Homo sapiens: one gene and its partner. The protein of the gene in region 1 interacts with the protein of each later gene in a biochemical or structural test. Each region holds a gene or a part of one and is shown on either strand. Other genes may lie near its edges.

The links. The genes of interacting proteins can lie anywhere in the genome.
Region 2: the proteins of SYTL1 (region 1) and NCF2 form a complex in vitro, tested with the Homo sapiens proteins (one study listed by BioGRID).

Annotation. Positions count from the first base shown.
Region 1 is NC_000001.11:27,345,020-27,352,044, forward strand, and holds part of SYTL1 (synaptotagmin-like protein 1), read left to right. Parts: intron 1-277; coding exon of another isoform or gene 278-315; coding exon 316-506; intron 507-2,401; coding exon 2,402-2,550; intron 2,551-2,785; exon of another isoform or gene 2,786-2,788; coding exon 2,789-2,861; intron 2,862-2,947; coding exon 2,948-2,993; intron 2,994-4,060; coding exon 4,061-4,133; intron 4,134-4,378; coding exon 4,379-4,479; intron 4,480-4,632; coding exon 4,633-4,746; intron 4,747-4,952; coding exon 4,953-5,113; intron 5,114-5,369; coding exon 5,370-5,466; intron 5,467-5,774; coding exon 5,775-5,933; intron 5,934-6,238; coding exon 6,239-6,317; intron 6,318-6,436; coding exon 6,437-6,536; intron 6,537-7,025.
Region 2 is NC_000001.11:183,559,460-183,566,484, reverse strand, and holds part of NCF2 (neutrophil cytosol factor 2), read left to right. Parts: intron 1-705; coding exon 706-781; intron 782-2,454; coding exon 2,455-2,480; intron 2,481-2,899; coding exon 2,900-3,051; intron 3,052-3,178; coding exon 3,179-3,290; intron 3,291-6,211; coding exon 6,212-6,389; intron 6,390-7,025. UniProt on the Homo sapiens protein: Subunit of the phagocyte NADPH oxidase complex that mediates the transfer of electrons from cytosolic NADPH to O2 to produce the superoxide anion (O2(-)).

The DNA of each region.
Region 1 (7,025 bases):
ACATGTGTCTGTGTGTTCCATCGCTGCAGTCCTGTGTGGCCCTACCTCAGGGTGTGTGCATGTGTGTCTCTTGCTTCTTCCACTGTGTCTCCAAGTGTGTTCAAGGGCTAGTGTATGCATGTGTGCATGAGTGTCTCTCACCCCACCTTGAGCTCAGCCATCCTGGGGTGGCACCCTACCCATACCCGGCCAAGTGTTTGGGGAGAAAAGGGCTGTTGGTTCTAGGATGTGCCAAGCATTTGTGCAGGGCTTGACCTGACCCTCGGTCTGCCCCCAGGAAGCTCCGTGTGCCCAGCTGGGGCACAGCCCCAGCTGATGCCCCAGAGGGGCCACCCATCGCAAGAGGGGCTTTGGGCTCTGCCCTCCCTCCCCATGGCGCATGGGCCAAAGCCTGAGACTGAAGGACTGTTGGACCTCAGCTTCCTGACAGAGGAGGAGCAGGAGGCCATTGCTGGCGTCCTCCAACGAGATGCCCGCCTGCGCCAGCTGGAGGAGGGGCGGGTCAGGTAAGGCAGGGCAGACCCTGGCCGGGGAGCACCAAGAGGCTTGAGTGGCCCCCATCCTGCTCCCTACCGACACCACTGCCTGTCAGATGTCTGCGTGGTTCTTGGTTTTGCCCTTCAGTCTCCTCTGGCCTTGGCCAGCTCACAGCTCATCACTTCTCCAGGGGTGACTGCACCAGCTTTCTCGCCAGCCTCCCTGCCTCCAGGCTTGCCTCTTGGGCCCACCTCCTGCAGCTGGTGCTCCCCAGATCTGTCTGCTTTTTTTTTTTTTTCTTGAGACAGAGTTTCATTTTTTCGCCCAGGCTGGAGTGAAGTGGCACAATCTTGGCTCACTGCAACCTCCACCCCTCCGGGTTCAAGCGATTCTCCTGCCACAGCCTCCCAAATAGCTGGGATTATAGGCACATGCCACCATGCCCAGCTAATTTTTGTATTTTTAGTAGAGATGGGTTTTCGCCATGTTGGCCAAGCTGGTCTTGAACCTCTGATCTCAGATGATCCACCCGCCTCAGCCTCCCAAAGTGCTGGGATTACAGACGCGAGCCACCGTGCCTGGCCAGATCCGTCCTTAATATCCCCGCTGAAAACTTCCCCTGGCTCCCCAGTATCAAGGGCAAGCTCCTAGGCATGGTCCACTGGGCCTCCCTGGTCGGTCCTTGCCAGCCCCCACCATCTCCTCTTTCACCATAACTCCGACCCGACACACAGACACAAAGTGACCCCTCCAGCCACTCAGGTGCTCCCCAGTCCCTGAACCCACTCTTCACTTCTATGCCTATGCTGGTACTTCTTCCTGGAAGAGCACAGTTGTAGAAGAGCATGGGCGTTACAAGCAATGTTTGGGGACAGACACTTCCTAGCTACGTAGCCTTGGCAACTCACCTGACCTCCTTGAGCACCATGCTCGTCGTCTGTAAAATGGGGCTAAGGAGTCCTACTTCACTGATTTAAGAGGAATTGGCCAGAGATAGTGGCAACGCCTGTAATCCTAGCACTTTGAGAGGCTGAGACGGGAGGATTGCTTGAGCCCAGGAATTCAAGACCAGCCTGGACAACACAGTGAGACCCCATTCCTACAAAATATAAAAAATTAGCCTGGCGTGGTGGTGTGCGCCTGTAGTCCCAGCTATTTAGGCAGCTGAGGTGAGAGGATTGCTTGAACCCAGGAGGTCAGGCTGCAATGAGCCATGATCATGCCACTGCACTCCAGCCCGGGCAACAGAGCAAGACCCTGTCTCAAAAAAAAATAATAAAATTAAAAGTATAATAATTATTATCCTTCTCTACCTGGAGAGTTCCAATTTGTCTTTTAAGAAGAAATTCAAGGCTGGGCACAGTGACTTACAACATTGTGGGAGGCTGAGGCAGGTGGATTGCTTGAGTCCAGGAGTTAGAGACCAGCCTGGGCAACATGGAAAAGCCCCGTCTCTACAAAAAAATATATAAAAAATTAGCTGGGCATGGTGGCACACGCCTGTAGTCCCAGCTACTCAGGAGGCTGAGGTGGGAGGATCACTTGAGCCTGGAAGGTGAAGGTTGCAGTGAGCTGAGATTGCGCCACAGCACTCCAGCCTGGGCATAGAGGGAGACTCCATCTCAAAATAATTAAGTAAATAAATAAATAAAGGCAATTCAAATGTCACCTCCTCTGGGAAGCCCTCCTGGATTCTCACAGGCAGAGCTGGCTCTTCTTACTTCTATCACATCATCCACCTCACTACAGTGTACTTGTCTCTTCTGGACTTGGTCTCCCCAGCAGCCCGAGCTCCTCCACAGCACAGATCAAGTCTGATTTGCTGTTGGGTCCCTGGCCCCTGGTCCCAAGCCTGTTAACAATGTAGGTGGCGGGAATGTTGCTTGGGTGAGTCATGACAGCCACACCCTCCCCCTTCCTCCAGCAAGCTCCGGGCCTCAGTGGCAGACCCTGGGCAGCTGAAGATCCTGACAGGGGACTGGTTCCAGGAAGCACGCTCCCAGCGGCACCACAATGCCCACTTCGGCTCTGACCTTGTCCGAGCGTCTATGCGCAGGAAGAAGAGCACCAGGGGTGAGAGGAGATCCTCGGGGCAGGGCAAGCCATGTGCCGTCCAGGGCGCTGGCTGTATGTGGACAGGGAGAGAGGACCACTAGGGCTCCAGTCCTGGCTGCCCCCAGTACTGTGTGTCTTTCAGTGGGCAATGCCCCTCCGTGGGCATGGGGTGGGTGGGTATCTCCCAGGGCCTCTCCCGAGTCACAGCCAGGCTTCCTGAGCATGGGGGCTCACAGAACTTCTCACCTGCGCCCAGGAGACCAGGCTCCAGGCCACGACAGGGAGGCTGAGGCTGCTGTGAAAGAGAAGGAAGAGGGGCCAGAGCCCAGGTGAGGAGGAGTCTCAGGAAGGGGGAGATGGTGCCCACCAGTCACCAGGGTCCCTCCCTCTGAGAGCGTCCTCTCCCTACTCCTAGGCTCACCATTGATGAGGCCCCTCAGGAGAGGCTCAGGGAGACTGAGGTAAGTGAATGAGCCAACATGTGAGTACAGTGTCCCTGGAGGGGAGGTGGAATGTGCAGGGGGCAGGGGGGAAAGAGCCCCAGCCTGGGAATGGGGAGACCCTGGAAATGTTCCTTCCTGTGTCTGCACCTCATCACCTCCTGGGTGGAACAGTGGTGAACGGTGGGGAACGGTGGTGAATGGTGGTAAACAGTGGTGAACGGTGGTGAACAGTGAGTGGTATATGGACCCAGCCTCTAAGGGAACTTCTGAATCTGGCTATTAAGGGGTGAAGTGGGGCCAGGCACGGTGGCTCATGCCTGTAATCCCAGCATTTTGGGAGGCTGATGTGGGAGGATCGCTTGAGCCGAGGAGTTCAAGACCAGCCTGGGCAACATAGCAAAATGCCCCCCATGTCTATAAAAAATAAATAAAAAAAAAAGGCCGGTCGTGGCAGCTCACGCCTATAATCCCAGCACTTTGGGAAGCCGAGATCACCTGAGGTCAGGAGCTCAAGACCAGCCTGACTAACATGGAGAAACCCCATCTCTACTAAAAATACAAAATTAGCTGGGCATGATGGTGCATAACCTGGAATCTCAGCTACTGGGAGGCTGAGGCAGGAGAATCGCTTGAACCCAGGAGGCGGAGGTTGCAGTGAGCCAAGATCACACCATTGCACTCTAGCCTGGGCAACAAGAGTGAAACTCTGTCTCAATTAAAAATAATAAGAATAAATTTAAAAAAAGAAAAAAGGTTGTCTACCAATGGGTCAATATAAAAAATAAAAATAAAAAAAGGAGTGAGAAAGGAATGGGACTGGCCTGGCCTGGCAGAGGTGGAGGACTCAGGTACGAATGACCCCACCAATGGGAGTAGGGAGTCAGGCGGCACAAGCCCTGCGGGGTGGGCTGTGAAGCACTGGTCTCACCGCTCCTGCAGCTGGCTGCCAGCCCTGCCCGGAGGGCTGCCCTAAACCTGAAACTGGGGTAGCTGGCTGGAGCCCTATGACCTCTGACCCCAATATGACCTTTGACCTCTTCCTCACCAGCCCCCGTACTGTGACCTCTACCCCTTTCTTCCTTCAGGGACCTGATTTCCCATCGCCTTCTGTCCCCCTAAAGGCTTCAGATCCTGAGGAGGCGTCCCAGGCCCAGGAAGGTGAGTGGGAGCGCCTGTTGGGGAGCACGGAGAGGTTTCGCGGGTCAGAGGCAGCTCTAAGGGGCCCCAACCACCTGTGTTCACCCTCGTCACCCCCACTCCCACCCCGCGTCGGAGGTGGGGACGATCCCAGGGCAGCACCGGGGCCTGAATCTGCAGCTCGCTGGGGTTGTAAACCAGTTCCTACAAATTTGCTTAGGGGAGGGCAGGAGAGGGCTCGCTTAGCATCTCGTGCCCCACCCCAGATCCTGGCCAAGGAGACCAACAGGTCTGTGCCGAGGAGGCTGACCCGGAGCTGGAGCCCGCGTCGGGGGGAGAGCAGGAGCCGCGGCCCCAGCAAGCCCAGGTAGGCGGGAGTGGCCCGTGGCTGCTCTCAACATCCGGAGCGGACTCCGGGCGGGGAGCGCTCCTGCCCAGGGCTGCGAGCCGCCCGCGACCCAGGGCGCTCGGGGCAGGGGTGGGGAAAGAAGGGGCGCCCCGTCACTTGCCCCCTCTGCAGACCAAGGCCGCGTCCCAGATCCTGGAGAATGGGGAGGAGGCCCCGGGGCCCGACCCCTCTCTCGACCGCATGCTCAGCAGCAGCTCCTCGGTGTCCAGCCTTAACTCCTCCACGGTGAGGCGGGAGGGAGGGGACCCGGGCGGCCGGGGGGTGGACCCGTTCCGATGCGTAGCCCCTGCCTGCCCCTCCCTCGCCGCGGGACCCACCGCTGCAGCCCCCCAGCCTGCCACCTATGACCCGGGTCTGAAGCCTCCGCGCTGCCCGCGGCCCCGACGTGAGCCCTGCGAGCGGCCCTGACTCCCACCCACTCCCGTCCGCAGCTGAGCGGCAGCCAGATGAGCCTGTCAGGCGACGCGGAGGCGGTGCAGGTCCGCGGCTCCGTGCACTTCGCGCTGCACTACGAGCCGGGCGCCGCCGAGCTGCGCGTGCACGTGATCCAGTGCCAGGGCCTGGCCGCCGCCCGGCGCCGCCGCTCGGACCCGTGAGTGCCCCGCCGGCCAAGCGGGGCGCGGCTGTCACAGCCCAGCCCACCATTCACAGGGTCTCGGCCTCCTCGTCCTCATCTTCAAAATGGGAACAACAGCGTTATTGGGAGGCGTGCGATTAAGCGAGACAATCCCTGTAAAGCGCTTAGCACGAGGCCTGGCACGTGTTCGGGATGGTGGCTGGGGGAGCCCACAGGCAGGGGAGAAGGCTCTGGGAGGGCCCCTCCTCACCTCGGGTTCTCACCTCCCCAGCTACGTCAAAAGCTACCTCCTCCCGGATAAGCAGAGCAAGCGCAAGACGGCGGTGAAGAAACGGAATCTGAATCCGGTTTTCAACGAGACTCTCCGGGTGAGGCTGTGACCACGATGCGGTTCCCCGTTAATGAACTGGACGCCCCCTTCCTGCGGGGCTAGGTGGCAAGGGCAGCCAGTAACGTCATTGCCCGGAGGATCGGCGGAGGGGGCCCATTAACTCGTTATCCAGTGTTGTCAGCCTCGTGGTGGGCGTGGTGATAGTGCAGGTCCCCATTAATGCCCTTAGGGGCTCCCCAGAATTCCATCATGGTAGGAACGCGGTAGGACCTGCCTCAGCCAACTCGCGCAGCATCTACGCGGGCCACCAGCAGTGCTCCACTAAAGCTCACCTCCTGTCCTCAGTACTCCGTCCCGCAGGCCGAGCTTCAGGGCCGCGTGCTGAGCCTGTCTGTGTGGCACCGCGAAAGCCTGGGTCGCAACATCTTTCTGGGCGAAGTTGAAGTGCCCCTGGACACGTGGGACTGGGGCTCTGAGCCCACCTGGCTCCCCCTGCAGCCCCGGGTGAGGCAGCCAGGCCGCGTGGGGAGACCTGCGGCCCGGGTCTCCTGCATTTACCCCACCAGGCTCTCCCGCAGCCCCCTCACACCCCGCCTTCGACAGAACCTCCCCTCAACCTCTTAACCTCATGGCCCCAGGCGAAGCCCGGCCGGCCACGGCCCCTTCCCCGAGGGCGCTAGGACCCCTAGGTTCTGCCCCTGCAGGCCCCGCCGTCTCTTCTAGCCGCACCCCATCCGGGTCTGCAGACCCCACCCTCCTGAGGCCCCTTTCCATTAGCCCCTGCTCCACGATAAGCCCGCCTCTCGCAGGTCCCACCCTCTCCCGACGACCTTCCGAGCCGCGGGTTACTCGCCCTGTCCCTCAAGTACGTCCCCGCCGGCTCCGAGGGTGAGTGACAGCCGGAGAGGCCAAGCTGGACACGCCCTGAAAAGCGGGAGACTCCAGTCCCCGGGTTTGGGGGCGGTGGACTCCATCCGTGTGCGGGCCTGAGCCGAGCCTCTCCGCAGGCGCAGGACTGCCCCCGAGCGGGGAGCTGCACTTCTGGGTGAAGGAGGCTCGGGACCTCCTGCCGCTGCGGGCAGGATCCCTGGACACTTACGTACAATGGTGAGGAGTGCTGGCCCTCCGGGCTTCCCATTCTTTTGCCTGCAGTGGAGTGCCCAACCTCCACAAACCCTTACTAATCAACCTTTGATCACGCAGCCTGGGCTTTCACCACTGAGCAGGGGTGAAGGGGACGGTTTGAGCAAAGGCCTGGAGTCAGGGAAGTTGAGGACACCTTTGAGGAGCTGCATTTCAGCGTGACTGGCGCCTATAGGACTTGTTGAAAAGCTGAGGCTGAGGGCTGCAAGGGTCCTTCCATAGAGAACCTGGGAGGCCAGGCTGTGGGGCTTGGCTGGGAACTTATAGTTCAGTGTAAGCTTCTAGGGGACTTCTAGGGGTGCCTCCAGGTGCTGCCCCCACTGTTAGAGAGTGAAATGGAGGTGGGCGGGTCACTTCTGGGTGTCCACTCTGATGCAGCCAGAGGCTGCAGTACAGAGGTACTGTACTTCTGAGCAACACTGTATTTTGCAGAGGGGGTTCCCAGGCTTTGAA
Region 2 (7,025 bases), about 160 Mb from region 1:
ATCACTTGAACTCAGGAGTTCGAGACCAGCCTGGGCAAAATAGAGAGATGCCACCTCTATACAAATAAAAATAATAAAATGAGATCTGCCTTAGAGCTTTGAATCAGAGTGGGCCTTGCCAGCCACTGCTTCTAAACTGCTGCTACTCCCTCCCTCACACTTCAAAAGTCTGTCCTTCTGCCAGGCCTAGAGAGCTGTCTTTGTCAGATCTGAGCATCCCTGTAAGTGACTCAATGGCAGTGGAGACTGTCTGTCTCTAGACTGTGCAACCAGTTGTATATGAGCTCAGCCCTCCCTGGTCAGTCACCATATCCAAATGCTTTGAAAAGCTTCAAATGCCTTGCAAATGAGAAGTGGAATTTTTCCTTTCTCAATGCCCTCTGCAGTGGAGACAAGAGCTCAGTCCTGCCCCACGGCCAGTGGATTTCCAATATGGCTGAAAGAGTTGCTAAAGCGGCAAGGGCGTTTTAGCGGGTTAGGATTCTTCTTTCTACTGTGATTTTCATTTTCATCAGGCCAACTCCACCTCCTCTTTTGGCCAACATTTCCTTCGTCTTCCCCAAATGTCACTACCATTCCAACTTTTAGGACGTTATCTGCATGTGGCTCCTTTACATGGGGTCTCTGTAGGGGTGTTTCCCCACATCCACCCCTGCCTGGGAACTTTGAATGAAGGTTCTGACCGTCGCTCCCTGTTGCCTTCAGGAGGAAAGCTCTCCGCAGTCCGACATCCCAGCTCCTCCTAGTTCCAAAGCCCCTGGAAGACCCCAGCTGTCACCAGGTGAGTGGTCCTGGAGCCACAGCCTAGGTCTGGGTGCAGCAGCATGCCAGGCTGCTTCCTGAGTTCCTCTCCCTGCCTTCCAGGAAATTCTGGTTTCTTCTTCTCCCAACATGTCACTCAGCTAATGACCACGCAGCCCCAGAATCCCCCTTTCCTGCACCACCCACCCCAAACATGAAATCAGTGCCCTCTCTCCCTGCCTTCTGCAGAACACTCACGGGGCTTGGGTGAATGCAGCTGGTTCCTGAGTGACTCACGTAGTCACCAAACCCCTTGATCATTAGGTAGGGAAACGATGTCTCAGGAAGAAAAGTTGAAGTAACTATACCTGCTTATCTCTGAGGGGCATGGAGTGGCTGTTTTCAAATGTCTGAGGCACTGTATCTGGAAAAGAAATTGCTCTGTGGAGCCCTGAGGATGAACAAAGAACCAATGGGCAGATGTGAAATGGAAATGTTCTCTCTGAAAGGCTGTTTCCTAGTGTGGAGAGGGCTGTCTTGGGAAGTGCACTTGAAGCAGATTCTGGATAAGCGCTTGGTAGAGACGCAGAGTGAGTGGTTGGCCAGATTCTAGATCAATGATTGCCACACGCGCCTGATCATCAGAATCACTCGGGATGTCCCTTCCCCCATTTTTATTTTGAAAAATGTCCAACCTACAGAAAAGCTGACAGTAGAATACAATAAACATCAGAATATCTTTCACTTAAACTCACCAATTGTTAACATTTTGCACCATGAACTCGCCCTGCTCCATTCTATTTTTCTCCCCCGAGCCAGTTGAAAAGTTACAGACTCGTGACACTTCACCCTACACAGCTGCAAAAACGCAGTCTCCTGCATAATCACAATAGAATCATGGTATCTAGGACACTAAACATTCATATGATAGTATTATATAATGTATATTCCATATTCAAATTTCTCCCGTTGCTCCTGCTCAATGTCCTTGACAGGTTTTTTGTTGTTATCTTTTGTCTAGAGGCTCATCAAGGATCACATATAAACCTAGGATGATTTTGTGAATACAGAGTCCTAGGCTACTGGCTCTGATATTTTAGGACTGGAATGGGGCTCGGGAATTTGTATTTTAGAAAAAAACTTCCCATGTGATTCTAATGATCAGCTAGGTTTGAGATCAGTGGCCTTCTCTGATCATGTACCCCCTATAGTAAATATCTTTATGCATGCTACTCTTACATAAATTAGATTAATATTAGATTGCTTGATTAATAGATTAGATTAAATTAATAAACTTTAGGAAACATACACAAAAATAAAGAATAAGGTGAGGATCAGTGGTTCTAATACTTCTTCCTGTGGCCTCTGGCTCACCTTGCACTCCGATTTTCATTGCTTTGGATCCCGTGGGCTTAATTGACCTTTGGGATCCCTGCTAACCTTGTGGGTTGGTGAGGATATGCTGGTCCTTTGGTAATTACCTATAGGCTCCCTAGAAGCAGAGACTGAGTTTGTTCATGTGTTCATGACCTTCATGCTTCCCCAGGGCGAGATTTTCCCCACAGTTTACTAAGGTTAATAATTGCCCCACAAATTAAAGGGTAAGAGGTTGGGGGCCCTATTTGAAGAGGTTTCATCTGTGTGTGGCAGGGGCTGGCCAAGGATGTTCATTCACCATCTTCTTTTGTTTTACTCCCTACTTTTTCCATTCAGGCCAGAAACAAAAAGAAGAGCCTAAGGTAACATTTTTCCCTCATACTGTTTCAAGTGGTAGAAGATGGGATAGCTTGGGCTATCAACCACAGACATGTCTGTCTGGATTATAGGAAGAGCCCCAAAGGGAGGGTCGAACCAGTTGCTACCTTACAGAGTCCATGAGCTAGGGACCTTCTTAATAGCCTCCTCCACTATCATGCACACACTTCCTACTACCCAAGCTAGTGGGCCAGATCTTACTCAGTAGGAATTCCTGTCCAAGCAAGGGTTGGGCTAAAGGACCTCTGAAGGCCTTTTAGGCTACTGTGAAACCAGTTACTTACTGGCCTCTCCCCTGCTGTATTGGGTACCCCCTGTGCCAAATCACGAAACTGCGGTGATCCAGGATGTTGAGAGAAAGCCTCAGACACTCAGGAGTTCCCTTTGTTTCCTCCCCACTCAGGAAGTGAAGCTCAGTGTTCCCATGCCCTACACACTCAAGGTGCACTACAAGTACACGGTAGTCATGAAGACTCAGCCCGGGCTCCCCTACAGCCAGGTCCGGGACATGGTGTCTAAGAAACTGGAGCTCCGGCTGGAACACACTAAGCTGAGGTGAGCTCCATGCAGGCAGCTGTGAGGGGTACAGTGGGAACCTTGTGCTGGCCTGGAGGAGGGAAGAGGAGGATGGTTTTTGTGATGATGTTCTTTGACTGGATTCTTACTCATTATCCCCACCCAGCTATCGGCCTCGGGACAGCAATGAGCTGGTGCCCCTTTCAGAAGACAGCATGAAGGATGCCTGGGGCCAGGTGAAAAACTACTGCCTGACTCTGTGGTGTGAGAACACAGTGGTGAGTGCAATGAGGGGCATCTAAAGTTACATTTCCACTGAGCCACTTCCTCAACAATTTGAAATTTATCAAGCACCTTCTGTGTACTAGGCACTATATGTGGTGTTGGGGATATGGTGTGTAATAAGTCACAGCTCTGCCTCCCTTTTACCTGCATCCTCACCCCATTTGCAGCAGGGAGAGAGTTTCCCACAAGAGAACAGCAGGCCCAGCAGGGCAGGAGCTCACAGAAAGCCTCCTGCCCCTCCATCAGCTCCCTGCCTGACTGTGTCAAACATCCCATCCATTACTGTCAAGCAAGGTTGGAATGAAGTCATATCATAGCTTAAGGCTCAGCTCATAGCCATTCTTCACCTTTTTTTTTTTTTTTTGAGATGGAGTCTCACTCTGTCGCCCAAGCTGGGTGTGATCTTGGCTCACTGAAACCTCTGCCGCCCAGGTTCAAGAAATTCTCCTGCCTCAGCCTCCTGAGTAGCTGGGATTACAGGCACCTGCCACTGCACCCAGCTAATTTTTGTATTTTTAGTAGAGACGGGGTTTCACCATCTTGGCCAGGCTGGTTTTGAACTCCTGACCTTGTGATCCACCTGCCTCGGCCTCCCAAAGTGCTGGGATTACAGACATGAGCTGGGAGAAGAAGAGTGAAAGAGAATGAGCCTAGAAAAGGGCAGTGTATAAAGCTGTTTAAGGTATCTTCCCCGTTCAGAAAATTGCCTTCAGGAAATACAGCCACTGGGGATGAGACTCCCTGGTGTCTCTGGCTGAGACAAAAGGCCCCAGGATCCTGGGGGTAAGAGTGAGTGTGAGTGTAAGGGGTCTCTTGGAAGTCTGAAAAGTCACTCTAGGTTTTCCAGCTGTCTGTCTTTGGACTAACCCCTTCAGCATCTTTTTTAAAAGATTCTTCCTAGAAGGAGTTCTGCTCTAAATGTGAACTACTTCACTTAAACTTTTTTTTAATTAAAATTTTTTCCTTTGACAGCAGCTTCAATCTATTTGGTGGCTGCACATAGCCAACCCTCTTACAACTCCCCACAATCTTTTGCAATTTAATCCAGGCTCAGGAGTCACTGTTGAATGTTCTTTATCACTATCCATTACTTTTGGAGGCAACAAAGCAGGCTTTCACTTACTAGGAGAAAGAAAACCAGGCGCAGTGGCTCATGCCTGTAATTCCAACACTTTGGGAGGCTGAGGCAACATGGTGAAACCCCATCTCTACTGAAAATACAAAAATTAGCTGGGTGTGGTGGTGTGCACCTGTAGTCCCAGCTACTTGGGAGGCTGAGGCAGAATTGCTTGAACCCAGGAGGCGGAGGTTACAGTGAGCTGATATCATACCACTGCACTCCAGTCTGGGTGACAGAGAGATTCTGCCTCAAAAAAAAAAAAAAAAAAAAAAAAAAAAAAAAAAAAAAGAGGCCTGGTATGGTTTATGCCTGAAATCCTAGCACTTTGGGAGGCCGAGATGGGCCAGATCACCTGAGGTCAGGAGTTTAAGACCAGCCTGGCCAACATGGTGAAACCCCATCTGTACTAAAAATACAAAAAAAAAAGAAAAGAAAAGAAAGAAAAATAAAATGAACTAACATTTATTAAGCATCTACTCTATGCAGGAACACTTACCATTAACCAAGTCTAAATATTTATACATATTTAGAAGAGTACTGCCACAGAGTAAGTGTTCAATAAATGTCAACTACTATTATTGTATGTCATCTCATTGAATTCTTCTAGCCTCAATTTCAGGTGAGGTAACTGAGGTTCTGAGAAGTTACACTGCTTGCTTAGGGACACAGAGCTGGTAAGCAGTGGAGGTGGGATACAAACCTTTCTCTGTGGACTCTCTAGGGCCATTTCCACCTCATTGTATTGCCTCTCAATAAAAATATACCAACGTTCAACAAACAACATTAAGAAGCTAGAACTTATAATGCTCGGTACATACAAGCCTAGCAGCATTTCTAATGTTGATTTGTTAAATTCTATGATTCACATCTGTAGAAACCGCATCCTTCTCCTTCATTTGTGAAGCAAAAGTGACAATAATGTGGAAGAAGTCTAAGATCATAAGTCTAAGATGTATAAGAAATGTTGTTACAGATAAAACAAGTATGGCATTGTGCAGTGGTTTTTGAACTTTAGCAAGTATCAGAATTCCCTAGAGGACTTAAAATACAGATTGCAGGATTCACCTTCAGGGAGTTTCTGATTTAGTAGTTTTGGGATGGAGTTGAAAGTCTGCATTTCTAACAAGGTCCCTAGTGTTGCTGTTAGAGTTGATGCTAAGAAAGCCAGTTTTGACTTAGGGCTCTGTCCCCATCTGTAAAGAAATAATAATGCCCATTCTACCTGTCTCAAGATTATTGTAAGGTTTCAGTAAGATATTTTAAGACTGTATATGATTTTGCAGACCTTTTGGTTTCATTTATCCCAGGGGTCCCCAACCTCCAGGCCACGGGCCAGCACAGGGCTGCACAGCAGGTGAGCTGCAGGTATACTGGCCTGAGCTCTGCCTCCTGTCAGATCAGCAGCAGCATTAGATTCTCATAGGAGTGTGAACCCTATTGTGAACTGTGCATGCAAGGGATCTAGGTCGCATGCTCTTTATGAGAATCTAATGCCTGACGATCTGAGGTGGAACAATTTTATCCTGAAACCACCCCCCAACCCACCACCCACCACCATTCATCTAAAAACTGTCTTCCATGAAACTGGTCCCTCGTGCCAAAAAGGTTGGGGACTGATTTACCCAACCATCCAGTATTCATAAAGAGCATATAAGCTCTACACAAGGCACTGATCACAAACTTTATGAGTTTATATCCCAGGTTCTACTTTGACATTTCGCTGTTTCCTTTAGTGATGTTCAGTGTTCACTTGGCAGGAAATTGGGAAAATTAACAGGCCCTTTATTATTTCAGGGTGACCAAGGCTTTCCAGATGAACCCAAGGAAAGTGAAAAAGCTGATGCTAATAACCAGACAACAGAACCTCAGCTTAAGAAAGGCAGCCAAGTGGAGGCACTCTTCAGTTATGAGGCTACCCAACCAGAGGACCTGGAGTTTCAGGAAGGGGATATAATCCTGGTGTTATCAAAGGGTAAGTGCTACTCCAAGACTATAGAAACAAATTTACATGTTAGCAGAAACAAGGTCAAGGGCAGAGAGAAGAAAATATCAATAATCTACAAACAAAACTTTAGCCAGTGTTTTCAACCCCCTTCCTAGCATCTAGCTGGAGGGAGCAAAGTTGAGCACTCAGACTTTCCCTGTCTATTGCTCTAGTAGCCAGGAAAGCAACAAGAAGCTGAGTTGTTTTGTTTTTGTTTTTGTTTTTGAGACAGAGTCCCCCTCTGTTGCCCAGGCTGGAGTGCAGTGGCACAATCTCGGCTCACTGCAACCTCCCCCTCCTGGGTTCAAGCAATTCTCCTGCCTCAGCCTCCTGAGTAGCTAGGATTACAGGCGCCCACCACCATGCCTAGCTAATTTTTGTGTATTTAGTAGAGATGGGGTTTTGCCATGTTGACCAGGCTGGTCTCAAACTCCTGGCCTCAAGTGATCCAACTGCCTCGGCCTCCTAAAGTACTGAGATTACAGGCATGAGCCACCGCACCTGGCCGGCGATAAACATCTTGATTATTAAAGAGGAGTATGCTTTGGAAACCATGGATTCTCATTCCCAGAGGTAACAAATTGGGCTGGAATCACTTTGCCTTTGCATCAAGCTGTATGACCT